4 linked regions of the Homo sapiens genome follow. The main gene of each other region encodes a partner of the protein of the gene in region 4 in a complex. Each region holds a gene or a part of one and is shown on either strand. Other genes may lie near its edges. The genes, in order: CMC1, SMIM20, COA1 and SURF1.

Evidence for each region.
Region 1: SURF1 (region 4) and CMC1 share a complex: the UniProt entries of both Homo sapiens proteins name them as parts of the MITRAC (mitochondrial translation regulation assembly intermediate of cytochrome c oxidase complex) complex.
Region 2: SURF1 (region 4) and SMIM20 share a complex: the UniProt entries of both Homo sapiens proteins name them as parts of the MITRAC (mitochondrial translation regulation assembly intermediate of cytochrome c oxidase complex) complex.
Region 3: SURF1 (region 4) and COA1 share a complex: the UniProt entries of both Homo sapiens proteins name them as parts of the MITRAC (mitochondrial translation regulation assembly intermediate of cytochrome c oxidase complex) complex.

What each region holds. Positions count from the first base shown.
Region 1 is NC_000003.12:28,258,602-28,265,622, reverse strand, and holds part of CMC1 (COX assembly mitochondrial protein homolog), read right to left. Parts: intron 2,333-7,021; coding exon 2,243-2,332; intron 1-2,242. UniProt on the Homo sapiens protein: Component of the MITRAC (mitochondrial translation regulation assembly intermediate of cytochrome c oxidase complex) complex, that regulates cytochrome c oxidase assembly.
Region 2 is NC_000004.12:25,917,200-25,924,220, reverse strand, and holds part of SMIM20 (small integral membrane protein 20), read right to left. Parts: intron 1-7,021.
Region 3 is NC_000007.14:43,726,510-43,734,491, forward strand, and holds the start of COA1 (cytochrome c oxidase assembly factor 1 homolog), read right to left. Parts: upstream 3,015-7,982; 5' UTR 2,920-3,014; exon of another isoform or gene 2,734-2,919; intron 1-2,733. UniProt on the Homo sapiens protein: Component of the MITRAC (mitochondrial translation regulation assembly intermediate of cytochrome c oxidase complex) complex, that regulates cytochrome c oxidase assembly.
Region 4 is NC_000009.12:133,353,473-133,361,207, forward strand, and holds the start of SURF1 (surfeit locus protein 1), read right to left. Parts: upstream 3,016-7,735; 5' UTR 2,982-3,015; coding exon 2,928-2,981; intron 2,849-2,927; coding exon 2,797-2,848; intron 1,486-2,796; coding exon 1,352-1,485; intron 1,270-1,351; coding exon 1,187-1,269; intron 469-1,186; coding exon 277-468; intron 1-276. Other genes in the region: SURF2 (surfeit locus protein 2), read left to right, coding at 3,121-3,198, 3,442-3,596, 4,239-4,342, 6,478-6,657, 6,793-6,962, 7,584-7,667. UniProt on the Homo sapiens protein: Component of the MITRAC (mitochondrial translation regulation assembly intermediate of cytochrome c oxidase complex) complex, that regulates cytochrome c oxidase assembly.

The sequences.
Region 1 (7,021 bases), on a different chromosome or scaffold from region 4:
AAAAAATCTAACGGAAAAGCTTTCCTACATAATCATGTTTTAGGCATTTAGCAGAAAGTCAGATCACTTATTAAAATTCCTGTATCTTTTATCTAAGAACCATACAATTGGCATATATAATGCTTTTATATAAAATCCTATAATTATTTAATAAAGCAAAAGCTATAAACAGTAAATAAACTACAATGGAAATGTCCCGATTCTAAATTATGTATAACTGTTGAGTTTAAATGAAGTTTTCTTCTGCTGCTTGAATAATTCTAATGTATATGATTTCCTAATTTATATGGTTAGAAAATACTAAAGACTTCTTATTCTCTTATCAATTTTAGATTCTAAAATATTGTTTTGAATCACATGGCCTAAAAAATCAATACATAATTATCTATAAGATATTCAAATTATATTATTACATTCTAATATAGATGAATACATTTAAATAATCCAAATGAGTCACAGATTTTAAGATGCTTTCAGTCTTCAGAAACCGTAAGTATATTAAAACAGCAAAAACTTAACTACGTCAACATCCTAAACAACTTAACTTTTGATGAAGTGAAAATTAAACACTTTATTTTCTGTACCATTATAAAACACTAGTTTTGTAACACAAATAAATATTTTAAAGTTATACTCTACGCTTTCATTTCAAAAACCAAAAATAAAACTCAAAGTCATACAATCATTCTGCATTTTCCTTGGAATTATGTCAGTAAAAATTAAATCTGTAATTGAGTTAGCTAGCTTTCTTTCATTCTAGGTATAAAGACAATATGCTACATGACAGCACACATACAACTTATATGTGTAACTTTAGACTGATATATCAGTAATAAGTAAATTTTCCTAGCAGTAAAAAGCCCTACAACTTTATTATAGGGTTTTTAAGTTTTATCTCCCCTCACCTGAATCAGGATATATATTTTTTAAGTTGTATGAGGAATGTGCAGGATGTACCTCTTGTGACCATAAACATGACACCTACCAATGCCATACATGCACTACCTGCAGGTGTCAATAGGTTGACGTCTCAAGACATCTGGGGGTAGGTGTTAAAGAAAGGTACTCTGATTAAACTAACTCACAAGAATCAAGAGTAAAACCATTGGATGGTTATTTATATGAGTTTTAAAATGGAATAGGTCATAATAAGTTATTGAAGAAACAAAAATTACCATCACACATTGTTGATTCCAAAGAACTACTCTTTATTTTATTGCCTCCATTCATCAATTGCAAAGGTCCTCTCTAAGGGCAGAGGACAGGGAAGGGAACAAAAGCGTTCCTAGTATCCAAATGTTATTGACCCAGTCCTGAAATTAGAGTTGACACAGCCCTGCTCCCCTGTAGTGAAGCTTGCAGTGGAAGTGCAGCCCATCATCCTCACTAAAAATTATTGTGGTCCCTCAATAAAGATGACCACAGGGAAAGTGAAGAAGTAAAGCCAGGAAAATAGCCTATGCCCATAAAAGTTTATTACTTCTTTTTGATGGCCCTTCCAAGAGACAGAATTTTTTAAAGATATTTCTAAAGTAATATTGCCATGTGCTTTTCTAATAACTCATCATTTACAAATGTATTATGGCCTCACTATTCACCTTTCACTGCTTTCTTTACATGTTTCACTAGAATATTACATATTAATCACTGATGTCTCTAGATCTATAGGAGTATTTCATGTTAAAACATTTTCCAAAGAAAACATACACTTGTAGCTGTCTAGTGTATGTATTTACATAAATATCTTCCACTTAGAAACATAAAACAAAACAAAAACCCCAGACTCACTGTAAGTCCTATCAGGATTCTATTAACAATTCAGTAATAGACAATGACACCAAAGAAAATCACCTTAGAATATATATATGTATGCGAATATGGTGACAGATGGGAAACAGGTATATGTTAGATTTGATGTTTCTTCCTCCCCTATAAAAATCGTAAGAGTAACTTGTTTCTCCAAATTACTCATACCAAGTTTTTCCATGTATATAACTGTACCTCTGAGGGTAAAAAAACAAAAAATGTTTTTTACTAGTAATTTAGGGAAATATTTTTAAACTGTAAATGAATTGAACATCACTGGAAGTTCTGAAAGCTGAAATACTGGTATTTCAGCGAAAGGGTGAGAAGCAATTCATACATATTAATTCATTGACTACTTGATTCTGGGGCTAAGGATTAAATTCAGATCATATTATTAAAAATAAATTTGATCTTTACATGAATATTTGAATGTTACCTTGAACTTGTTCAGAACACCTCTCTTTGGCCTTTTCTCTCATTATTTTAGGGATCAAAACATCTTTTTCGACATGTCTGAGATGCTGGTCTGAAAAAAAAAAGATCTTTCTTTAATAAAGTCTCAAGCAAATCACCAGATTAAAGGAAAAATAAGACTCTGGTTTACTTAAAATAAAAGCCTATGCAAATATACTCAAAACTTACAACCTTATGAAATTGTGATTATTTTAGTCATTAAAACTCATCCTATTTGCAATGTTTTTTTATATACAACAACAAAAATGTGAGGAATACAAGCAACATGTTTCTTAAAATTTCTGCAAACTATACTACAACATCTTTACTTTATAACATATTCCATGCAATCTTGTCAAAGTTGGCATCTAAATCATTCCCTTATTAATATAATCCACAAAAGAGGATTTTCACCGATACTGAGATCCAAGAATAGATGAAGAGATACAAGATTAAGAGACACACAAGTAGTTTTTCTACCTAGTAGTAAGAGTAGCCTAAAAAAGAACTAACAGAAGAAAAGGTGGAACTACAAGTCCATATGAAAACAAAGCGTGTGTGATTTCTCTGCATTTTAAACACAACTTCCACAACTGGACTAAAATGGCAAATTGAACACCTGCTCTAGAGTCCCACCTGCTCCTTAAATGCTAAGAGAGTCCTGAAAAATAAACAAAGGATAAGTGCCTTCAGTGAACCAAAAAAGATGAGGAATCTCTGAAAGAAAAAAAGGCAGATTAGATCAGATTAAATGAGGTAATCATATTACTATAGAGTATCCAGGAAAAACACGCATGCCAAAAGTGGGTGCTGCTCCATGCTCTGAAGCAGCAAATATGGAAAGCAAGAAAACTTCCCTGGAGGAAACTAAACAGTTATTAATTAAAGTGACTCAGTAGGAGCCAAATGGTCACCTCCTCTGCTGCCTTCAGGCCACGGGTGAAAAAAGTATATATAGGTATTTATCCCCAAAAGACCAGAAAGTTTCCCATTAAAAGAATATAGGAAAGAAGATTTTAGATTATTATTAAGTATAATAAATATACTGAGGCAAATACAAAGACCTGAGTCCTCAGACAGCAATGGACCATGGATTACCTAAATGCACTCTGATGAAATGTCTGAAACCCCAAAATCCTAAAAGCTTCAAAAGGGAATAAACACTGCCTACATAAAGGAATGAGAATCAGATTTACATCATGGCTCACTGGCAAGACATGATGCAACAAGACAATGGAGAAATAACTTCAAAGTTCTGAGAGAGAATTATAAAGAATTACAAAGAATTCTAGAGTCTCTAAACTACCAATTATGAGTGAGGTTAAGGACATTCAGATATATAGGAACTAAAATGCTTACCACCTTCAAACCCTACAGAAAAAGAAGTAATCTCCTTATTACAGTTGATCCTTGAACGACACGGGTTTGAACTGTGGGGGTCCACTTAATACTCAGATATTATCCAACCAAATGCAGATTGAAAATACAATATTTTGGAGATGCGAACCTATATGGTATACCAACTTTTCAGGCCAACTTTTCATACACATGGGTTCTGAGGGGCCCATGGTGGGACTTGAGAATGCACAGGTTTTGGTAAATATGGGGCTCCTGAAACCAATCCCCTTCGTACACTGGGGAATGACTACTATGTGCAACAACTACTCATCAAATTTAGTGATGTAAAACAATAAACAATAAACTATGGGTCAGAGGGGCCTGATCTGGGAAGACTCAAAGTTCCGGTGGCTCTGGTGTGCATTTTAAACACAACTTCCAAAATTGGACTAAAATGGCAAATTGAACACCTGCTCTAGAGTCCCACCAGCTACAAAAGCTGGGGCTGGAGGATTTACTTCCAAAATTACTTCTTTTTTCATATATGTATCTGACATCTGGCCTGGAATGGCCAAAAGAAGTGCTCAGTTAGGACTGTAAACCAGAACATCTACCAATGGCCTCTCTACCTGGAGCCATGCAACACCATTCGTTCATGCTACACTATACTGATTTCAAGTCATTAAGGATAGCCCACACTCAGGTGGAAGGAAATCAGATTCTATTCTTGGTAACAAAACCACACTACAGAAAAGCATGAAGAATGGGAGATAATTTTGTAACCTTCTTTGTAAAATAAAATCTCTCACAAGATGTAACAGAGAATATGCTCTGATAGAAAAAAAAAAACTGAACGCATGATATACAAATGTAAAATATATGTCATATTACAAAAACATATATTTAAGTTCGTTAAAACTGTGAAGTACTTGAACAACATTATCAACTAACTTGACCTAACTAACATTTATAGAATACTCTACCTAATAACAGCAGAACATCTACTAAGATAAACCACAATCTGGCTATAAAACAAATCTCAATAAATCTGAAGGAATTTCAAGCCCTACAAACTATGTTCCCTGACACCAATGTAATTAAATTAGCAACCAATAACAGATCTCCGGATAATCGCCAAATATTTGTAAGCTAAATAACGCACTTTTAAATAACCCATGGATCTAAGAAAATGCCAAAAAGGAAATGCGAAAGTATTTTGATATGAATGAAAATAAAAACACAATATATCAAAATTTATGTGATGCAGCTAAAACAGTACTTGGCAGGAAATTTGTAGCACTAAAAACCTATCTAGAAAAAGAAAAAAGGTCTTGTATTAACTTAAGTTTCTACCTTGAGAAACCAGAAAAAGGGTAAAATAAACACAAAGCAAGCAAAAGAGGAAAAGATAAATATCAAAATATAAATCAATGAAATAAAGAATACCACACAAATAAAAGAAAAAAAAAACAATGAAATTAAAGCTGGTTCGAGAGGATAAGATCAATAAAATTTATAAACCACTAGCCAGACTAAGGTCACAAATTTCAAACATCAGAAATGATAAATATTTTTAAATAATAAGGGAATATTATGAACAAATTTAGGCCAATGAACTTGACAACTAGAATGAAATGAATAAATTCCTTTAAAAAAACTACAAACCAACCAAAGCTCACTCAAGAAGGCACAGATACCTTGATACTAAAAGCAAGAACGGTATTTACAAAACACATACACACACACACCAAATCTACACACCAGTATGCCTCATGAACACAGATGCAAAAATCCTCAACAAAATATTAACAAATCAAACTCAGCAATACATAAAAAGAAAGACACATAACAAAAATGTTGGACTTATTCCAGGGAGGCAAGGGTGGTTCACCATTCAAAATTCAAACCATGTAATCCATGAGATATATTAACAGTCCAAAAAAGGAAAACCATATAATCATATCGATGCCAAAAAAAATTGGACAAAATTCTACATGCATTCATAAAAAACAAAATCAGTATACGTGGAACAGAAGAGAACTTCTTTAATGAAGGGCATCTACAAAAAATCTTCTAGCTTACATCATACTTAATACTAAAACTCTGAACGCTTTCCCTATAAAAAAAGAAACATGGTATAAAATTACACAGAATTATACACACACACATATGAGTACACGTAAAAACTGGTGAAAACTGAAAAGATCTATAATCTAGTTAACAGTATTGTATCAACTTCAGTTTCCTGGTTTTGATATTGTACTACAGATATATAAGATGTCACCACTGGGGAAAGCTATGAGATGGACACTCAAGACTATATAGCATTTTTCACAATTTTATGTGAGTCTATATTTCAAAATAAAAAGTTAAAGAAAAAAACTTCTAGAAACAATCACAGGAGAAAATCCTCATGATGCAGATGTCATATAATTACAGAACAACAAAAAAAATGCATGTAAAAAGTGGTGAAATTCGACTAAGATTAGTACCTGAATCAACAATATTATACCATTGCCAATTCCCAGTTTCCTTGTCCACATTTAATTATAGGAGCCTGTCCCAACCTTTTTTAATTTTTGCCCTAAAAGGACCCTTTTTTGACATTTTTTCCTAATGTACCCCTATGAAATGTTAATATCACAGATATAGCATATATGTTTATGCACTGCGGGTGTAACATTGTTTTATACATTAAGAGAGTAATATTTCTGTCTCCACCAATGTCAATTGTTATCCTTTTGAAGGCAGTTATCACACCCACTGAGAATATACATATCATGGTTATGTAAGATAGCATCATTAGGGAAAGGGAAGAAGGCAGGTACATGGAAACTGCATGATTTTGTAGTTTCCTATTATTATTATTATATTATTAAAAAATAAAGTTATAATAAAAAAGTGAAAAAACATACAAGGAAGCACAAAGGACATAGAATAGCCAAAACAACACTAAAACAGAAGAACAAATTTAGATGCTATGCAGCAACTACCCGATTACAAGTCATACTACAAAACTACAGAAGTCAAGACGACGTAGTGCTGGCATAATTTGGGTAGCCAAAAAGAGTAATGTAACAAAAGAGAACAAAAGAATCCACAAGGCCAGGCACAGTGGCTCACGCCTGTAATCCCAGCACTTTGGGAGGCCGAGGCGGGCGGATCACGAGGTCAGGAAATCGAGACCATCCTGGCTAACACAGTGAAACCCTGTCTCTACTAAAAAAAAATATAAAAAATGACCCGGACTTGGTGGCGGGTGCCTGTAGTCCCAGCTACTCCGGAGGCTGAGGCAGGAGAATGGCATGAACCCGGGAGGCAGAGCTTGCAGTGAGCTGAGATCTCACCACTGAACTCCAGCCTGGGTGACAGTGCGAGATTCCATCTCAAAAAAAAAAAAAAAAAAAAAAATCCAGAAATACTT
Region 2 (7,021 bases), on a different chromosome or scaffold from region 4:
AAAAGCTTTTCAGTTGCTTTTGTTGCTGCTGTTACCTAGATACATACACCATCTGCCTCTGGGGTATTCCAGAACTGGAGGTTCACTGGTGGTGAGTGTGAACCAGGGGCCAAGGGGAAGCCATATGACCGCAGCAGCAAGTGCAACCCAGTTGGCTGAAGGGGACCAAATGGACGTGGTGACAAGAAAGAACCAGGGACGGAGGGGAAGCCATATGACCACAGGAGCAAGTGTGACCCAGTTGGCTGAAGGGGACCAAGTAGCCACTTGAAGCACTGCACTCCTCCCAACAGTGTCAACAGGTCTGTTTCCTCACCAGAGCCTGGTTGAATCCAGGGAACTGTGTAATGCCAGTTAGAAAACAAGACCCAGTCTGCCTGCGCATTTCATTCGATTATGTGGTGAAAGGACTGAAAAGCATATTCTAAGCACCTGGCATGTCACAAGGAAAATGCCCTGACAAGGTAAGAATTCTTTCTGCATCAGGTGATTTCCAGTACCGTGTGCTGCCTAGGCATAGCCTCCTTTTGGGCAGGGGCAGCAAGGTGCAGCGGAAATCAACAGGACTGAGAAGCAGCAGAACTGAGGTCTCACAGCTCTCCCCTGTGGCCTTTCACTTGGCTGGCTGTTGAACATTCTTCACTGTCTGAAGGCATCATGAGGCAGGGCATTAAGTACAGGCAAGGTCAAGGAGTTAGGGCCTAGTGTCCACCCAGCAACTAATGTGCTGAGTAACCTTGGACAAGTCACTAAATGAGGGGACGGAAATGAGCTCAAGCCCCTTCTGGTCAAACCCTATGATTTTATGCTTCTGAACATCCAATTAAAATTTCAAATGAAAAGGATCACAGAAAATGATCTTATTCTGTCTAATTTCACAGGCTGGCCTCAAATGCATGTTATTTGTAAAAGGCCATATTCAGGGTCACTGTCTAGTTCTAGGAAACAAAGACAGATTAGCCATCTGTACTCTTCCCTAACTGTGGCCTCTTCAGACCAAACATGCTATGCCAACAGGGTGAAAGCTAAAAAGTGTCTGGGACTCCCTCCAGAAGTACAGCAGAACTGTACCCAGACTTCTGGTTTTGGGTCACTGACCCACTGATGCCATCATCTGTCCAGCGCTCATTTCAGTACTTGAGGTATCATGTACAGAACTGCCTTGTACTCCACATAACACTTAGGAAAGCCTTGCTAAGTTAACGAAAGAACTGAAGATCATGCTGAACGCCAAAATGAAATCCAATAAGGCAGTCTGGTGATAGTGGCTGCCTGCTCTGCAACCATGGAAGATCTCCTTGGCTTTGTTTTACCTAAGCAGGCTTCCCCTTCTTTTCTGCTGCCTGTATGCTTGTTCCAGCAGAGACCCTGGAACGTACCTGTCCCCATATCCATGCTGGCACAGGTGAAGGGCCCGGACTGATCTGACACTTGGCTCTACATGGACTGCCTTGCCAGTTGCCAGCCCTAAGTCTTGCTTTTACCAGTAACCCAGTTCTCAGGGAGTAGGCTTCTGCCCTGTCCATCCAAGAATGATGGGCTTCTGCCCCACAGTCTCAGGATCCTGGGGAATGAAATGTATGAAGGACGGTCAGGAGAGAAGGCCTAACAAGAAAGGCTAACAGGAGTGGCTGAAAGGCAGGAGCAAAAGAGCAAACCCAGGAGGACCTTCCACGGTGGAGAGGCCCAGGGAAGACAGTGCTCCAAGGAAGGAGAGGATGGCCTAGAGTTGGTGCCTCTTACTCATAAATGACCTGACTTCCTGTGTCACAAAGAGAATAGACGCCATCACCTGGAAGTGCCCACAACTTGCCAACATCAAACCTAGATATGGCAGCATCCACACCATCCTTCCTCCTGAGCTGGTGGAAGAGGTGCCTTGCCTTTGGTCCAAGGCTCTTTCCTCTACTTGAGCTCAGGATCTCATGTCACCTCCCACTCTACGGACTGTCTTCTCTCTCCAGCAGCTTTCTCTGTCTAAGACTTTCTTGGCCCTCCATCTCTTCCAGCCAAAACTAAAAGAAAACTCTTCCCAGACCCTGTGACCTGCTGGAAACTTTGCCATTCTCCTCTCCATACAGCTAAACATCTATAAATAGTCAACTTAATACACTATTAATAGTCAACTTAATACACTTCAATCCACTGCAACCTGCCTTCTGCCTACTTCCAAACCACTGAAAGCATGTTTAACAATATAACCAATCACTTCTAACTTATTTCTGTTAAATATAATTCATATTTTCACTTATCTCTTTTACTGTCTCTAAGCAGCCTAACCCTGCTGACCACACTCCCTTTTCATGAAGAGCTGTCTTTATGGGGCTTGTGACTGCAGCCTCTCCTGGTTTAAAACCTGTCTAGCCACTCCTCCTCAGTCTCCTTAGAGGGCCTTTCTCTTCCTCTGACCCCCTATGCTTCAGCCCTTCTGACACTGGTGTTCCCCAGCACACTGCCCCGGGCCAGCTTGCCCCTTACAATCTCTGAATGCTGCCTGGGAACCCTTACCTACTGCAGTGACCTGATTCCCAGCCACGTGCTGATGATGCCCCATCTCCAGCTGCAGCTCACATCCGGCGTCTCAGCCCCAGATCGGTATATTCCATTGTCTATGGGAAATCTCAAAGAGCACATCAGCTACCTCAGCCTCAAAAGCTACCCAAATGCCCAAAAGCAAACTAACTTGTCTTTTCACCCCTAAAACCAATTCCTTCTTGTGTTTTCTAGCTAATGACCAGCATCTCCATCTCCTCAGCTGCTGGAGCCAGAACACTGGGTGCCATTCTCCTTCTTTGCCCCGTGGCTAATCAGCCACAGACCCCTGTAGAGTTTACTTCTTTTCTTTTTTTTAAATGAGACAGGGTCGCGCCATGTTGCTCAGGCTGGTTTGAACTCCTGGACTCCAGCGATCCTCCTGCGTCAGCTTCCCAAAGTGCTGGGATTACAGGTTTGAGCCACCATGCCCACCAGTTTGCTTCTTAAATATGGCTCCCAAATGCAGTCACTTATCTCCACTCCCATAGCCACCACTCTGGTCTCCCTGAGGTCACAGGAAACACAGCCTTCCCGTACCTGGCCTTCCTGTCCCCAGATTTGACTTTTCCACCTTCTAGTTAACATACAATCAATCAGAGTGATGCTTGTAAAGAGTGAATATGATCACTGCTCTTACTAACATACAGTCCTGTGTCACTCATCTGTGGGAGTACATTCTGAGAAATGCGTCCTTAGGTGATTTCATTGTTGTGCAACCATCATAGAGTGTACTTGCACAAACCTAGACAGTGTAGCCTACTACACACCCAGGCTATGTGATATAGCCTATTGTTCCTAGGCTACAAACCTGTACAGCCTGGTACTGTACTGAATACTGCAGGCAACTGTAACACATGGTAAAGATTTGTGTGTCTAAACATAGCTAAACTTGAAAAGGTACAGTAAAAACACTGTATAAAAGATTTTCCAAATGGTGTACCCAAATAGGATATTTACCTTGAATGAATCCTGCAGGAGTGGAAGTTGCTCTGGGTGAGTGAGTGGTGAGTGAATGTGAAGGCCTAAGACATTACTGTACACTACTACAGACTCTATAAACACTGCACACTTAGGCTACACTACATTTATTGTTTAAAATTTCTTTCTTCAGTAATAAATGAACCTCAGCTAGCTTTTTTACTTTATAAACTTTTAAATTTTTAAAACTTTTTGACTCTTATAGTAACATTTAGCTTAAAACACAAACATCTACAGCTGTACAAAAATATTTTCTCTTTATATATCTTCATTCTATAGACATCTTTCTATTTTAAAATTATTATTATTTTTTCCTTTTTAAACTTTTGTGTGAGAAACTAAGATACAACATATATATTAGCCTAGGCCCACACAGGGTCAGGATCATCAGGACATCACTAGGCGACAGAAATTTTTCAGCACCATGATAATCTTATGGGACCACTGTCATACATGGTCTATCGCGGGCCAAAATATGATACAGCACATGACTATACTTCAATAACCCTCCACTGGCTGGACTTCCAAGACACCAAAGGGTTACTGGAGCACTGTAATTAAGCAAGTGAGATGATTAAATTTGGATGGCGTGACAAACTTTTCAAAAACCATGGCAGAAGACCTGCAGTTCTATACATTTTCCAATAGACAAAAACAGAGGTTCCCAGTTACAAATTCTTACCAAAGAAGTAGTAACAGATGTATGTCAGAAGGGAGAAAACTGAAGCTAGAAAGGAGTGAAATGTAAGCAGCGTCGGTGAGTAAAGAACGCGGGTGAAGATAAACAGTCAGTGACCATATACAATAGTGATGGTGTTAACTGATTTGCTGAGTCACAGGCACCAGGCAGGACAAATATATTATGTCAGGTGCATGGGACAAAGGTTAAGGCATTATAAGGACCTTGTATTGTTCAAGGGTAAAGACACTGACTAACTCTAAACTTTATAAAAGAACAAAAATAGAATTTAAAACTTTCAAACTAGTAGCGGGAAGAGAAGAATAAAGAAGGCTTGAGGCAGAAAAGAAGAAAAAAAGGAAGCATAGAAATAGAACAGAAGGCCGGGTGCAGTGGCTCATGCCTGTAATCCTAACACTTTGAGAGGCTGAGACAGCCGGATTGCCTGAGCTCAGGAGTTTGAGACCAGCCTGGGCAACATGGTGAAAGCCCATCTCTACTAAAATACAGGAAAAAAAAAAAATTAGCCGGGCGTGGTGGCATGTGCCTGTAATCCCAGCTACTTGAGAGGCTGAGGCAGGAGAACTGCTTGAATCCAGGAGGCAGAGGTTGCAGTGAGCCGAGATCTTGCCACTGCACTAACAATCTGGTGACAGAGCAAGACTGTCTCAAGAAAAAAAAAAGAAGACACAAAATGAGGTGAGAAAAATAAATGCAAATATATCAGTAAATAGAATAAATGAAAATTAATCCAATCCAATAGTTAAAAGAGCTTATCAGGTTGGATTAAAATATCTAGTTTATGTTGGTTTTAAGATATTCACAGGCCAGGCGCGGTGGCTCACGCCTGTAATCCCAGCACTTTGGGAGGCCGAGGCGGGTGGATCATGAGGTCAGGAGATCGAGACCATCCTGGCTAACAAGGTGAAACCCCGTCTCTACTAAAAATACAAAAAATTAGCCGGGCGCGGTGGCGGGCGCCTGTAGTCCCAGCTACTCGGGAGGCTGAGGCAGGAGAATGGCGTGAACCCGGGAAGCGGAGCTTGCAGTGAGCCGAGATTGCGCCACTGCAGTCCGCAGTCCGGCCTGGGCGACAGAGCGAGACTCCGTCTCAAAAAAAAAAAAAAAAAAAAAAAAAAGATATTCACATAAGGACAAAGTCTGCGTGTATAAGGAGAGAAACAGATAAGCTAGGAAAATATTAAAAGAAATCTGGGCTGGGAGCAGTGGCTCATGCCTGTAATCCCAGCACTTTGGGAGGCTGAGGCAGGTAGATCACCTGAGGTCAAAGAGTTCGAGACCAGCCTGGCCAACATGGTGAAACCCCGTCTCTAGTAAAAAATACAAAAAAATAGCCAGGCGTGGTGGTGGGCACCTGTAATCCCAGCTACTTGGGAGGCTGAGGCAGGAGAATTACTAGAACCTGGGAAGCGGAGGTTGCAGTGAGCTAAGATCACACCATTGCACTCCAGCCTCCAGCCTAGGCATCAACAGCGAAACTCCATCTCAAAAAAAAAAGGAATCTGGTAGCACAATAAAATCAGATAAAATAGAGATGGGGAAGAACAGTGGAGATAAAGATAATTCTTATATAATGATAATTAGAAAAAATTATCCAGAATTTTCTAGATTGTATGCACCTAATAACATGGCCACAGGACATCCAAATACAAACAGAATTAAGAAGCTTGATCTGTAATTAACATACACAGATACAGAACTCTGTACCCAACAAGAGAACAGCCACCATTCCAAGCACACAGGGAATATTTACAAAAACTGACCTGGGCCAGGCGCGGTGGCTCACGCCTGTAATCCCAGCACTTTGGGAGGCCGAGGCAGGCGGATCACGAGGTCAGGAGGTCGAGACCATCCTGGCTAACACGGTGAAACCCCGTCTCTACTGATAATACAAAAAATTAGCCGGGCGTGGTGGCGGGCACCTGTAATCCCAGCTACTTGGGAGGCTGAGGCAGGAGAATGGCGTGAACCCGGGAGGCGGAGCTTGCAGTGAGCAGAGATCACGCCACTGCACTCCAGCCTGGGCGAAAGAGCGAGACTCTGTCTCAAAAAAAAAAAAAACAAAAAAAAAAAACTGACCTGTACCAGGCCCCAAAGCAAGTCTTGACCAGTGTCAGAGAATCAAAATCATATAGTCCACATTCTCTGACCATAAATGCAAATAAGATAGAAACCAGCAACCAAAAGTCACCAGAAAAGACCACTGTGGCTGCTAGGTAGAGAATGGGTAGTAGGTGGGACACAATGGAAGCAGCTCAGTCCCAGGAATGGGTGGAGCGAGGTGGACAGGACAAGGGTAGGAAGAGCATGATGGAAGGAAGTGACTGACCATGCTGTTTGGTTAGGTGCAGTCCACACCCAGCACAGTGCCAGGCACCCAGCGATTGCTAGAATCCAGGTTTCTTCTAAAAAAGAGAGTGCTAAATAAATGCTAGTTGAATGTGTTGGAATGAGCTGAAGATCCGACCACACAGTGGGTTTCCATGACCTGATCATGAACACCTCATCCCAGTTTACTGCTAGGTCAGCCAGCTCCAGGCCTATCCACCTGCTAAAATCTCCATGTCTCACATTCCTGCCCTTGTGGCTCATTATTTTGTAAACATTTTAATAAAATATCTAATATAAGACTATAGTAGGTGTTTCCACACCTGTTACCCCATTTAATTCACCCCAAACCCTGTAAATTCAATCCAGTGAACTACACTGCTACAGATGAGGAAACAGGCAGGGCTCAGAGAAGTGAAGTAACTTAGATGAGGGTCATTCATCTAGTAGGCTATGCAGACACTCATCTCCCCCATTGCC
Region 3 (7,982 bases), on a different chromosome or scaffold from region 4:
CACAAAGAACTCCTAAAAATCAATAAAGACAAAACTCCATACGGAATGGCAAATTATAAAGTTTTTCCTTGCTTCATTTTTCAAGTCTTAAAATGCTCCTCACGGGTTCTTTCACAGCATTTTTCCTGGGCCTGGCCTCCCACGTAGTTGTTGGAAAACCATCACTCTCTAAACCACAGCCACATACCCATAAGGAGGTCTCCAGGGCTACAAAAAATTAATCTCATGTGCTTTTCATTTAAAAGAACGGTAGCATAATCTAAAAGACTATCACATATCTGATAAATGACTTGTATCTAGAATATATAAAGAACTCTTGCAACTCAATTACAAAAAAGAACCTAATTTAAAAATGGGCAGAGGATCTGAGTACACATTTCTCCAAAGAAGATAAATAAATGGGCAATAAGCACTTGAAAAGATGCTCAACATCATTAGCCATCAGGGAAATACGATTTGAAACCATAATATTTTCAAAAAGTTAGGAGATTTTTAATGGTCGCAACACAAAGAAAAGATGAACGTTTCAGGTGGTGGACATACTAATTACCTGATTTGATCACTACACATTGTATACATTTATCAAAATATCACTCTGTAGTCCCTAAATATGTACAATTATTACATGTCAACGAAAAAGAATGAAAACACAATGACACACACTTCACACCCACTGGAATGGCTAGAATCAGAAAGACAGATAATGACAAGTGTTGGCAAGGAGTGAGAAATCAAAACCCTAATACACTACTGGTGCGAATGTTAAAAAGATGCACACTGATGCTTTGGAAAACAGTCTGACCATTTCTTAAAATGTTAAACAGAGCTACCATATGACCCAGCCATTTCACTCCTAGGCACATACGCAAGAGAAATGAAAACATGATGTCCACACAAAAACTTGTAGGTGAATGTTCACAGCAGCATTACACATAATGGCCAAAAGGTGGAAACAATCCAAACGTCCACTAACTAATGGAAAATAAATCGTGGTAATACCCATAAAAGATTAACCAGCAATAAAAAAAAGTACTGACACATGCTATTAAATACAACACAGATGAACATGAATGTTAAGTAAAAGAAGCCAGTTGAAAAAGACCACATGCTGTATGATTTCACTCACATGAATAATCCAGAATAGTCAAATATACAGTCAGTCAATTCATAGTTGCTTAGGGCTTAGAATGGGGAGTGGGGATGGGGAAGTCAGGTGAGCCTGCTGAATAAGTACAGGGTTTCCTTTTGGAGTGATGAAAATGTTCAATTGTTCCAATATGGCTCTCACAAACTGAATGCAGCATATTAAACATGAACAAAAGAATACAAGAATAACTTATTGGAGTCTGTCTGAAATAGAAAATTAAACCAACTAATGAAGGTGAAGAAGATTACAGCATATTTTATGATGATGGTTGTACAACTTTGTGAATGTACTAATGTACTAATTACTTTTAGGTTTTCTTTCTTTTTTTTTTTTTTTGAGATGGAGTCTAGCTCTCTCGCCCAGGCTGGAGTGCAGTGGCGCAATCTCGGCTCACTGCAAGCTCCACCTCCCGGGTTCACACCATCCTCCTGCCTCAGCCTCCCAAGTAGCTGGGACTACAGGCTCCCGCCACCACGCCCGGCTAATTTTTTGTATTTTTAGTGGAGACGGGGTTTCACCGTGTTAGCCAGGACGGTCTTGATCTCCTGACCTCGTGATCCACCCGCCTCGGCCTCCCAAAGTGCTGGGATTACAGGCGTGAGGCACCGCTACGTTTTAAATGGTGAACTCTACGGTAGGTGAACTATGTGTCAGGAAGCTGTTTTATTTTTTTAAAGGACTGAAGACTTTTGTTTTGTGTTTTGTTTTGTTTTCATTTTATCCCGTTTTTAAAACAGTGCCTAGCAATATTATGAATTCAATCGATTTTGGCTAAATGCTAGAACAAAAATTAAAACTTGAGTAAACCATATAAAACTTTGCCATATCTAAAGTTATTAAATTACCGTAGACTGGCATGGTGGGAGCATAATATGAGTGTACCTGCAGGTGTGTTTTCCATGAAAGTAGCAAAGACTGAAAAACTCAGCAGAATCAAGACCCTGTAGGCCCTTGAAGTTAGGCTAAGAAATGTGTATTATCCTGAAAGCAACGGGAAGGCCAGGAAGATTCTGAGGACAGAAATAACACAATCTGATATGCGTTTTAAACGTGCAGGTGTAAGCGGAGAGTTGCTACTTCTATCCAAACGTGAGCCACCTCAGAAATAAAGCAATAGCCCTCCGGGGAGAATGGGGAGGAATCAGGGGAAGACCGGAGAAACAGGTTATCAAATTATCAGAATCTCCATAGATTTTTTTAAATTACACAGCATCCACCCCCAAACACACATACAGACTGATAGGCACTGATATATACATAAATACATCCAATGTCCCCTACACAGAAAATCACTTTTGCAGTCAGCCCCTGTTGGGAGGGTTTTTCTGTTATTCAAGTGTGGTGGGGACAAAAAGTATTATAACCACTAAACCAGGTAATTCTTTCCTACAATAATTTGGGCAGCGTACTCCTCAGGGTGTTGAAATTTAGCACTACCAACAAAAGTGCCCAGTCCCAACTCTTCGAGAGGACCCTAACTCTTTACAGTGTGCTGTTGGGGATGGTCAGCAAAAACTGCAGGACAAGGTCAAGGTTAGCTCGACACAGCCTCCTAACTCCGAGCGGACGGAGCCACTGAAGGTTACCAGGTGCCAAAGAAGCTGCGCAGGGAGGCCGCGACCCGGCGCCGGCGCGAACCTCCGCGATGTGACCCGTGAGGGAACTCTCCAAGAAGCAGCGCACCCCGCGCGCAAAGGCGGCCCCCCGAATTGCAGGAACAAACGCTTCTTGCTGGGGGGAAGACGGAGACTCTTATACCGCGGGAGACTAACCTGTGAGCAACAGAAGCACCACGCTACAAAGAGCATGACGAGTTCTTCCAGGCTTGGGAAAGCACGGGTAAATGCCCGCGGTCCTGCGCGCCAGCGGGGAGCAGTAGAGACTTCCGGCGTCGGCTGCTCGCAGGGCTAGAGCGTCGAACCGGGACAACCGGAGGCTTCAGCTCACCTCGGATTGTAAATGCTAACACGGGTCCTCCGGCCGGCTGATCCAGAACTTAGGTCGCCGGGACGTGTGGCTTCTGCTTCTCAGACGCTCGGACTCGCGCCGGGAAGGGTTTCGCCTCCCCTGGTCCCCGCTTTTTTTTTTTTTTTCTGCGTCCGGTTATTGCAAATGCATTCAGTCCAGTAGCACTAGCCCAGGAAATATAAGCCACCGGCTCACGTTGCTCCTCACAGGTATGCGGCGCTTCCGCTGGCCTCCAAGGACACGAAGCCCCGGGCCGTCTGGCCCCCCACTCTAGCACTGAAATTCCTGCCGCCCCGTTCAGCTGACAAATTTGGCAGCACTAAATTTTATTTTATTCGACAAATTAAGTACCCAGTTAACACCAGGGAGTAACGGGGTAAGAAAATTTCAGAAGGCTGGTGGATAATAATAGCATTTACCTCATAAATTTGTTATGAGGATGTGAAGCACTTAGAGTAGTGTCTGGCAGTTTGTAGGCGCTCAGTAACTGTTAGCTGTTATTATTTTTATATTGATTATTCCATAGTCACCACTATTATCACCTTAATGTCAAGCTTGAAATCCAGTATCTTTCCTCTGCGAAGCCATCACTCCAAGACTAATTAACTTTAGACTGGGGCATTCTTCTTTAAACTCTTGCTCACACATCCCTATCAGAAAAAATATATATATATTTACATGTGTCATGTATGGCATTAATATATTATGCATGCTATAAAACTCACAAGACATCAAACTTTTGATGAGGTAAAAACAATTTTTAAACTTTTTTAAAAACTTCTAACAGAAGTTCTTTTCTTCCTCCACAACAATTAGGTTGCCAAACATACATTCTATCACTCTGGAATCCACTAGCTAAATGAGCACATTATCAAAGCAACCTACCGCTGAATTCTGACTTCCCAGAATGTTTCTTTTCCAAAGAATTAATAGAAACTAATCAGATTGTGAAGTGCTCGGCCATAAGGACTATTTAAATGGTTCTTAGAGAAAAAGAAGAAATAAAATAGGCATCCACTGAGTAATATTCATTGATGCAACATTGATTATTGACTTATTACATTTTCAAAGAGATTGAGGTTATAATACCTTACACCAAGCTTAATATTTCAAAGAATAAATCAACTAATAAAAAGCTTATGAGGTTTGGTATATGTGCATTTCATACAACGTTCATGAAAATGAACCCGAGATCAATTAGCTCCCGTTCTGTACCAGAAAGAGAAATATGTTTACTTTGTAAGTAATAAAACATTAAATAGGCTTTTCTGACCATTTGCTTGAAAACTCAGAACTTAACATTTCTATCACTGGACTTAAATCTGCTAAAGTTTTCGTCTAAATTTTACATTAAAAACAAAACTCTATAGTGAATAATGTTACCTATCCAATATTCATTTTCCTCTAACTCCTTTGTACCAAAATCCTTATTTTATTCAGATAGCTGCCCTGTTCCCAGAATCAAAATGATACTGATTAAACCAGTCATCACACAGAATTTTTTTGTCGTCTAAATTTTACATTAAAAACAAAACTCTATAGTGAATAATGTTACCTATCCAATATTCATTTTCCTCTAACTCCTTTGTACCAAAATCCTTATTTTATTCAGATAGCTGCCCTGTTCCCAGAATCAAAATGATACTGATTAAACCAGTCTTCACACAGAATTTTTTTGGAAATAGTTGCTAATCAAGGAACGAGTATATGACCCAGGTTGGCGCAATCTGACTGAAGGAAAGGACCTCTATTTCATGCTCAGGAGAAAGTTTCTGATATACTGTCCTCTTGACGTCGAAACATCTATCCCACACTGTCATTAGTAGCCATCTTGCCCATCACAAGGAATAAAACTGATGGACCAATGCTGAGGACAACTGAACAAGTTATAAAACAATGTCCTTGGTGACATCATTCCAAACCTGGAGCTCACCCTGTATCTGAATGCCTTGTAGGAATGTCTAATAAGTTTCCTTATTGTTTTTGTTTTCTGTTTTTCTGAGACTGAGTCTCACTCTGTCGCCCAGGCAGGAATGCAGTGGCATGATCTCAGCTCACTGCAACCTCTGCCTCCCGGGTTCAAGCAATTCTCCTGCTTCAGCCTCCCAAGTAGCTGTAACTACAGGCATGCACTGCCACGCCTGGCTAATTTTTGTATTTTTAGTAGAGAAGGGGTTTCACCATGTTGGCCAGGCTTCTCTTGAACTCCTGACCTCAGTGATCCACCCACCTTGGCCTCCCAGAGTGCTGGGATCCTTACTGTTTTCTGATAGAGATGCCATAAAGATTAAATGGGTTAAAATAGTGCTGGTCATATTGTAAGTATTTTAAGTGCTTAATAAATTTTAGTTATTATTAACTCACCTTAAGTCAGGGATTCTGTTTCTTATAGCCAAAATTACCCATCAAAATACACATTCTACCTCTCTTTTTCTATATATTTAAAGAAAGGGTCTGTTTTGATACTTTTAAACTAAGGAGCCAGGGAAGGGGTAGGAGGTGAAGAGAGGAGGGGCTGACTATAATGCTGTATGAGGGCTACTGTTAAGTGGTTAAATGGCTGCTTTGAGATTCACTCAAGAGCAGCAGGATCCTATAACTATCAAATCTGAATGAGGTTACTACACATCGTAGTTGTATGTATACATGAAAGTATCATTTCCTGCATATTAATATTGTGATCCACTGCCTTACTAAGTTGCTTTATTGTTTGGAGTTCATTCTGGTAGAATTTCTAAGATTGCAATCTTATCATTGAAATAGTTTTACCTACTTCTTTCCAAGTTTTATACCTCTACTTTCTCATATCTAATTGTTTTGGCTAGTATCTCCAGTAAAATATTTAATAATAATAATGACAGTAGACTTTTATGTCTTATTCCTATCTTTAATGAGATATCTTTAGAATTTTCCCATTAAGCATGATGCTGGTTTTAAGGACTGAAGTAGACATCTTTTATCATGTTAAGGAACTATCCACCTATTGAGAGAAAGAAGAAAATTTTGGCATAAGAGCTTTGAGAAAACAAAGCATTGAGCGTGCCATAATGTCCTGTCATAAAAATAAGTAAAAGTTAGACAGTATTTACCTCAAAGACACTGAGAAAATTAACATTAGCTAGGTTGGTATGAATGTCCTTTCTTGCTTATCTTACTACCAGCATGAAATTCAGTCCTGCCTAGTTTGTTTACAAGAAATTCACCTGTGATATCCTGATTTTTAACCCTGAAAAAGTTATTTATCTCTTACAATATGTCCTGTTTAATGTAAAGTTAATGCTTGCTCTACATGTTTTTTGTTTTTTGCTTTTGTGTTTGCTTTTACATGTACTCCAAGCACATGCTCTACATGTTTGTTATAGGAAATAATGTGCACCTCCTATAATTTTGTTATAGGAAATTGTAGCTGTTCAAATATGCTGATTGCAAAAAATAAAGGACATTTTATAATAATTGGGTTAGATCATCAAGAAGATATAACAGTCTTAAATTTGTATGAATCTGGCCAGGCGCAGTGGCTCACGCCTGTAATCCCAGCACTGTGGGAGGCTAAGGCAGGCGGATCACGAGGTCAGGAGTTCGAGACCAGTGTGACCAACATAGTGAAACCCCATCTCTACTAAAAATACAAAAATTGGCCAGGCGTCGTGGTGCGCATCTGTAATCCCATCTACTCAGGAGGCTGAGGCAGTAGAATCGCTTGAACCTGGGAGGCAGAGGTTGCAGTGAGCCGAGATCGTGCCACTGCACTCCAGCCTGGGCAACAGAGCGAGACTCCGTCTCAAAATAAAAAAAATTGTTTGGAACTAATAGCAGAGCTTCAATAAATGTGAAGCAAAGACTGACAGGACAATTCAAAAAATTGGAAATTGTAGGCTGGGTGCGGTGGTTCACACCTGTAGTCCCAGCACTTTGAGAGGCCAAGGTGGACGGATCGCGAGGTCAGGAGTTCAAGACCAGCCTGACCAACAGGGTGAAACCCTGTCTCTTCTAAAAATACAAAAATCGGCCTGGCATGATGGCGTGCACCTGTAATCCCAGCTACTCAGGAGGCTGAGGCAGGAGAATTGCTTGAACCCAGGAGGTAGAGGTTGCAGTGAGCCGAGATTGCAGCACTGCACTCCAGCCTGGGTGACAGAGTGAGACTCCATCTAAAAAAAAGAAGAAAAAAGAAAAGAAAAATTGAAAATTGTAGTGGAGATTTTAACATTCATCTCTCAGCAATTAATAGAAAAACTAGACCAAAAAATCAGTAAGTGCATAAAAAACTGGAGCAACACTATTAACCAACTTGACCTGTTTAATATTTATAGAACACTCCATAAATAGCTAAATGCACCTTTTAAGTGTGTAGAATATTTTTATGCCAGTTCATAAACATTGATAAACTTAAATACATTGAAATTGTATAAAGTTTTTTGTCTTACCATAATTATAAATTAGTAACAGATATCTGGAAAACACAAATATTTTGAAATTAAGTAACACACTTCTTTTGAAATTAAGTATACATTTTGACTCATGGGTCAAAGAAGTAATGGTAAAGGAAACAGGCGTATTTTGAAGTGAATAAAAATAAAAATATATATCAAAAGGCATTGAATGCAGTTAAAGTAGTGCTTTAGAGAGGAAAATTATAGCATTGCATTCTTAATATAAGGAATAAAAATATAAGAAAAGAAAAAGTATAAGTTAAATTATTTTAGCTTCCACTTTAAGAAATTGGGGGGAAAATTAAAAATAATAGAAAATGAAATAATAAAGATAATTTTGGAAATCAATTAAGTAAAAGAGCTAGTTCTTTTTTCAGTTTATTTATTTTTGAGATGAAGTCTTGCTATGTTTCCTAGGCTGGTCACAAACTTCT
Region 4 (7,735 bases):
GACAGTTCTCCAGAGGCAGGGCCCCTGTTTCACGAATCCCTCCTTTCCCTTCAGAGGTCAACATACAGAAATTATCCAGTCATAAATGAGCTGGCTGAGAAGATTAAGTCAATGTCACAATTAGGGACTTAAACTATGCAAGGAATTGAATCTCCTGGGTATCTTGGGTTCCCCAGGGTCCTACCAAGGTTGGGGATTGTGAAGGAAATAGTGATGTAAATTAGTATACCCTGACTGCCTCTGCCAGGACAGCCAGCTCCCACATGTCCTACTCACCCCAGGTCGGTGCAGTGGAAGGGAGTGACCACATAGGCCCCACTCTGAGTTGAGGAGGAGATGAGGCCGCCCTCCCGGGCCTCCCGGACAGGGTCCACCATGGTCCGGGGCATCATATACAGCTCCTTGGAATGGTCAAAGCACCCCCTGACCTTCACTGGCCTATACTCCAGATTTTTCAGTTCCATTGGGCTGCATGGAGATAAGAACAGTGGCCGAGCAAGGTTTGGCTGGAAAACGAATCCCCTGAGGGTGGCAGACTACACAGCCCACCAGGGCCAGACAAGTGAAGGAGAAAGGCAAAGGGCGTGCTCTTCAAAGGGGAACTTTGATGCCATGTGGGAATGTGGATCTGCACTGCCAGAGTCCAACTTTACAAGAGAGGCTAAAAATCTGGACTCCTCAATGAATATTTTATGTGAAATTTTAAAAAATATGTGGGCCAAAACCCCATCTGCAAGCCAAATCTGGCATACTGTTTGCTACCCTGAATGGAAAATGTGGCTGAATATACCTATCTCTGTAGGGCATATTCTAGGGAGAGAGCAGACAAATCATTCAGGGCACTTTTTCAAACGACCACCCTCACGGTGAGACCTACATTATCTGTCCTCAGCCACAGGGCCTTGGGCCCTGTGGAGGATAAGTTTACTATACCTGAAAAAAGGGTGACACCCAGGACTCAAAATAAGACTTTCCTCCATATGTCAGGAGGCGGTCTCAGGTAGCTTCACAAGGGCAGTCAGGTGTCAACAGCAAGCCCAACAGATGACTGATAATGAGAGCTCCCACCTGAGGTCAAGGCAGTGACTAAAAGTCCCACCAAAAGGGGCAAGCTGGCCAGCAGAAGCCAGGGCTCTGCTGTTGAACTCAAGTAAAACAGGCCCTAGGGGGGCAGCCATGCACTCACTCGGCTGGCAGAGGGACAGGCTCAGCCAGAACTCTGGACTCCAACTCTGCAATCAGGTTCAGCTTCCACTTCCGACGCTGGACCTACAGTGACAGAGCATAAGGCCAAGCAGATGGCAGCAAGGTCAAGGGCCCAGAGTTACGCACACCAGATGCCGGTCTTTACCTGCCATGTCCCCAAGCCAAAGGCAGTCACAGGGATGAGGAGCAGGACCCACTGAAGAAAGGAGTCATCTTCCGCTTTTGTGGCAGATGCTTCTGCTGCAGAACTGCCACATCTGCTTGGCCTCCAGGCCACCCCTGGAGAGTTTCACAACACTGACATGGAGCCAGAAGCCCTCGAACACAGACCTGGAGCAGCCCGTTCCAAGACAGACTCCAGTACTGCCAATCAAAACCTGCTGCCTAGAGCCAACTAGCAGCACCTGTATCCAGCCCAGCTCCTAACCCGGTGCCCAGAACAAGGCACACACAGTACGTCTGCCAAGTGAGTAAGTGGGATCTAGGGCTCAGTGCCGGTTTGACCACCAACCACGACCCTGAGTAACTCATGCCTTTTTACTCAAGAATCTAGATGTATTCCACTGCACTAAGATGCACCATTCATCCATTCAAAATGCATTTAATAAGCAGCTACAGTTGGCCGGGCACGGTGGCTCACGCCTGTAATCCCAGCACTTTGGGAGGCCAAGGCGGGCGGATCACGAGATCAGGAGTTCGAGACCAGCCTGACCAACATGCAGAAACCCCATCTCTACAAAAAAATGCAAAAATTAGCTGAGCACGATGGTGCTTCTGTAATCCCAGCTACTCGGGAGGCTGAGGCAGGAGAATCGCTTGAACCTGGGAGGAGGTGGTTGCTGTAAGCCGAGATTGCGCCACTGCACTCCAGCCTGGGCAACAAGAGCGAAACTGTCTCAAAAAATAAAAAATAAGCAGCTACAGTTACTAAGTAGCTTAGTCAGGCACTAGTGGTTGTTGTGTTATGTAGAAAAATATATCAATTCAGTAATGGCTCACAGAGCTCTCTTAACAGCTTTCCATTTTTACAACTCATCGTAAATGTAAAGAGGGAAGAATGTACACAGAAAGTGCCTTTAAGCTCTCAGAGGATGAGTTCCATCCGCTGAAAAGCACCAGGGGCCTTGCGGATACTATTTTTTTTTTTTTTTTTATAAAAAGGCAGGCCTGGGGCAGGCTTGCACAGCACTCTACACACGGCAAAACAGCCCTGTGCTGCACACTGAGAGGAACACGTAAGCCGCGGTGGTTAGATACGCTTTACTTTCAGAGCCCTGGGCTTTCAGCCTGGGCTGGCCACCCATTAGCTGGATGGGACGTTCGGAAGTAACTCTCGAGCCTTCTCTGTAACAGGGGAACGACCAAGGAGCTACCTCTCGCGTTGTGAGGACAAAGCGCTCGCTACATGCCCGGCACACGACCACAATTCCACTGAAAGCATTTTAATACGGAACTTGTCACTCCCAGGGAGCCTCCGCTCAGCCGGCAGTTGGTTCATTTCAATCCCCACGACAACCCTTCAAAGTGCAGGGCAGACAGCAGGTGGCTCTGCCCAGGCGCCTGGATCACAGCCCGGCCTGCAGCCCTCACCTGGGCGCGGGGAGACCCTGAGGACGCTCCTCCAGGCGGCGCTGGCCGGGGCCTGCGGACACGGACGGGCGGGCTGAGCTCCGGGACCCCTCCCCGCGCCCCGCACCCCGCACCCCGCACCCGGCGCTCACCCGTCCCAGCCCCGCCGCCCGCAGCCCCAGCTGCAACGCAGCCACCGCCGCCATCGCACCCGGCCCCGCGGGCGCTTCCGGGACGCAGGAAGCATCTGCATCCGGGGCGCCGCTGAGTCCCGCCCAGAGCCCCGCCCCCGGCTCCAGGTTCTGCGAGCGGCTTCCGCCGGGCTGCTCCGCGGGCGCGTCGGCCATGAGCGAGTTGCCGGGCGACGTGCGGGCGTTTCTGCGGGAGCACCCGAGCCTGCGGCTCCAGACGGACGCCCGCAAGGTTCGCAGCGCGGGAGGGGAACGGAGTGGCGGAGAAGGGCGCAGTTGGGATGAGGGGCTGAGGGGAGGGCAGGGGAGAGGAGAGGGCAGGGGAGAGGGGAGAGGGGAGAGCAGGAGAGAGGGGAGGGCAGGGGAGAGGGCGCGGCGGGATCAGGGGAGGAGAGGGAAGGGGGCGCGGCAGGAGGGGGCACCAGGGAGCGGAGCCCTGGCCCTCCTGACGTCCTGCCCGCCCACGCGTCCGCAGGTGAGGTGCATCCTGACAGGTCACGAGCTGCCCTGCCGCCTGCCGGAGCTCCAGGTCTACACCCGCGGCAAAAAGTACCAGCGGCTGGTCCGCGCCTCCCCGGCCTTCGACTATGCAGAGTTCGAGCCGCACATCGTGCCCAGCACCAAGAACCCGTAGGTGGTCCGCGGCGGCGCGGGGAGGCCCAGGGCAATTAGGACAGCCCCTCCGCTGGACTCCGCCAGTGCTGCAGCCCCTACTCTTTCAGAGTTGGGAGCCCTGGGACCCAGGTGGGCGCCCGGGTGCTGGAATCACCTGCGGTCCCAGCGGCGAGGCCTCTTGGTGAGCTCGTTTGCTCACCTGAGGTTTGTCCTGTGGGGTGTGGCTGCTTCCCAGATGAGTAGAGGCTTGTGATTTGTCACCTGAGGTTGTGAACAGCGTTGGGTTCTTCCCTTAACCCCAGAAGGGGTCTTTGATTTAGCTGGGAGCTAGGCTTTGTAATAATCGTCAAAACAGAGATAGGATGTTTCCATTCATTGAGCCCTTGCTCCAGGTGGAGCCATCCTCTTGCATGAACTCATCCTGGAGCAGTCAGTGAGGCTGCCATGCGTGCTTTTCCGGTAAACATTAAGAGGCTGCAGTCGGCCTGGGTCAGACGGTTCCCCACCCAGCTTCAGAGTGGAATTGCTCCGGGAGCCTTTAAAAGCCCGATGTCCAAGCCGCATGGTAGACTGTCCAGGGATGAGTCCAAGACACAGCCACCAGTCTGAATCCTTGCTGTGAACTGTCCCTACAAATTTGGTCTCTCTGCTCTGTAGGCACCAGTTGTTCTGCAAACTCACCCTGCGGCACATCAACAAGTGCCCAGAACACGTGCTGAGGCACACCCAGGGCCGGCGGTACCAGCGAGCTCTGTGTAAATGTAAGTCCCAGTGGACCCCCATCAGTGCATCGCCATCTGAGTGCATGCCCGCCTTGCCCCAGATGGAGCGTGCTTGAAGGCAGGTCGTCCTTCAGCGATCCGTGTTGATGCATCAGGCCTGTTTTTTGGCACAGTGAAGAGAGGGATGATGGCCCCTGACCCCACAGCTTTTAGTGCAGGCAGGCACAGAGCCAGAAGCAGGCTCGGGAGTGAGTGAGTGTGCGTGGCAATGCGAGGTGTGAAAGAAACTGGGCGAGGGATGTGGGGTGGGCTTGCGGAGACAGGAGGGCTGGGGAGACTCGCTGAGGGATTCGCTCGAGGCTGAGGCTGGAGGGATGTGGTGGCAGTGGGGTCGGGGGAACAGCACCCCAGGGAGAAGCCAGGGTCCATGGAAGTCTGAGGCAAAAATGTGTTGGCTGAGGTAGGCTCCAAAGGACTGGCTGGGCTAGTGTGCACAGCCCGGATGACCCAGAGACCAGGCCAGGAGCACTGCAGTGGGTGTGTGGAGAGGGTTGGGTGGGGGCTGCATGGACAGTGTGCATGGTTGAGAAGGGAGGACTCCTTGACTGCGGTCATCCAGGAAAAGACGGTGGGTTTTGGGGGGAGAATTCAGAGTCCCTTTGAAGGTTTTAAGCTTGAGCTGTATTAGGAAAGGTGTGTATTAGGGAAGTATCGGGCTTTTGAAACAGGGACACCCGTGCTGGATGAAGGAGATGGTTGCACCGTGGATCTGGGTGAGCACCCGGCGAGAGTTTAGAGAAGGGAGAGAGGCCTGGTCCTGAGCCCCAGGAAGAGGCTGGAAGTCCTCCCGTGGTACTGAAGGGAAGATGAGGACAGAAAAATGATAGATTTGATAACACAGAGGCCCCTGGCAACCTTGGTGAGGCACCTGAAGCTTGGCAGGGACACCTGGCTAGAGTGGAGCGTAGGCTGCAGCCCATGAGGGCAGTGTCCGGCCTTAGGCAGGTGCTGGGTCACCAGAAAGCCTTTCTGGAGTCCAGCTAAGGAGGGAAATGGACAGAGGCTGGAGCGGACAGATTCAGGTTGGTTTGCGGATGGGAAGATGCGTCTACGGGCTTCTGATGAGTGCGGAGAGGCAGTCCAGCCCTCCCGAAGCATGAGTGTGGATTGAGAAGGCAGGACCAGGGTTTCTCAAGTAGAAGGCGGGCACCTTGCAGAGGCCTTGCAGGCACAAGGGCTGCCAGCCTGAGGCTTGGACTTTTTCCAGCCAGTGTGTTAGCTGCTCAGGGGTGGGCAGGAAGGCTCTAAGTGCAGGGGGCCACGGGGTTCCCATGAAGAATGGTTATGATGGTGGACTGTGGAGCTGAGATGGGACTGGGGCGCCGAGGTCACTGCAAGGCAGTGGTCCAGGGAAGTCCAAACGTGGCTGTAAGGGGGCTCTGCCTTCACGTTCTGGTGGTGACAAGGCTGCTGCATGGCCATGGGGGTGGGTGGCAGAGACAAGGAGGGAAACAGCCCTGGAGATGGGCCGCCACATCAATGGCCAGGGCCCAGCAGGGCTCATGCAGCCCATGAGGGATGATGATGGTAGCTGCGCTGGGCTGGAGGGCAAGCCCCAGCAGACCCTCCAATATACAAGGGGACAACGGTGGTGACTCCAGTGAGGTCTTTCCATGGAAGCCTTGTCCCAACTCCCTTCTCACCCACTAAGGGGCAGCAAAGGCCAGGCAGCCAACCTCCACTGAGCCCCGCCCTCCGGGACGGGGTCTCCCATGTGCTGAGGGAGGACTTCAGGCTGCTGGGGAGAGGGTGGCATCACTGCCAGCCCGAGTTGCCTTTGAGAGGCCATGCCAAGCTCACTGGGGCACAGTTGGCCTTGGGCCTGGTCAGTGCCCTCCTAGCCGTGGCTTCCTAGGCCTGGCTAGATCGGGGATGAGTGGTAAAGGCCCCGTAGACCTCTACCATCTTCTTGCCTCCTGGCTGCAGCCCTGGCCCACCACCCTCCCTGCACACCTGGTAGGAACAGAGCTGAGGCACCCAGCAGCTGCTCTGGTTTTTGTCCAGGGCGGTGGGGCTGTGGGGCCCTGGCCGAGTGCAGTCCTCATAAGTTAGCTGTGGCCCAGAGGACCGTGGGGGGTGTGGAGGTACCCAGCACGTGCTGGCTTATCTCCCAGATGAAGAATGTCAGAAGCAAGGGGTGGAGTACGTGCCTGCCTGCCTGGTGCACCGGAGGAGGAGGAGGGAGGACCAGATGGACGGTGACGGGCCTCGCCCGCGGGAAGCCTTCTGGGAGCCCACATCCAGTGATGAGGGGGGAGCTGCAAGTGATGACAGCATGACAGACCTGTACCCACGTAAGCAGAACAGGCCCTGCTTCTCCCTGACCCTCTACTGTCAGCAGGGAGCAGACTGTGGTGCTGCCTCCCCTGCAAAGGTGGCAGCGAACTCAGCCTAAAATAACTGTCAGCCAATCCCTGTGTTCCTCCCAGCTGAGCTATTCACCAGAAAGGACCTTGGAAGCACGGAGGATGGGGATGGCACTGATGACTTTTTGACAGACAAAGAGGATGAGAAGGCAAAGCCCCCAAGAGAGAAGGCCACTGATGAGGGCAGGAGAGAGACGACCGTGTACCGAGGGCTGGTCCAGAAGCGCGGGAAGGTGAGCTGTCACCTCCTCTGTTAGTGTGGCAGTGGCTTCCCCTAGTGATGGTTTTCCATTTGTTTAAAAAAAGAAAACTGAACCTTTTTCACAAGTGAAATCCCAAGCCAACAACACACAAGAACCATAGAAGCCGAGGCCGCTGGCTGGCGGAAGGCCGTGAGTGCCTACCATTGCTTCCCAGCCAGCCCCTTGTGGAAGCCAGGCTCTGTGGACCACGGTCAAGACCACTGGTTTGTGAGGACACCCTCCTACCTCAGACTATGAGCTGTGGCGTGTTTGTCCTTACCCCTGGGCACAGGGACCTGATTACTAGCCACCACCTTTGCCTTTGCCATCAGGGCAGGAGTGGAGACTTCCCCGCCTTTGGTAGATAAGCAGGACCAAGGCCAAAAGAGGACAAGGTCCTAATGAGTGTGTGGCATTGCACTGTACTCCTCTGAGGCCCTGCTGAGCGGGGTCTAATCCTGCAGCTGTTAAGGAAACGGGGGTGGAGAAAGCCTCTGTGGGTATTTGACCGACACCTCTGAGGCTGTGTGGGTGGGGAGAGCCCTGCACTCCAGGGCCCCTTCTCCATGGGATCAGAAAGGCTCAGTAATCAGAATTTTGTTTATCCCACAGAAGCAGTTGGGCTCGTTGAAAAAGAAGTTCAAGAGTCATCACCGCAAACCCAAGAGCTTCAGCTCCTGTAAACAGCCAGGTTAATAAAAGCACATGCCGTGAAGTTTCGAGAAAGCCTTCAGATATTTCCCCCGCTCCTGATCAAACCGTGT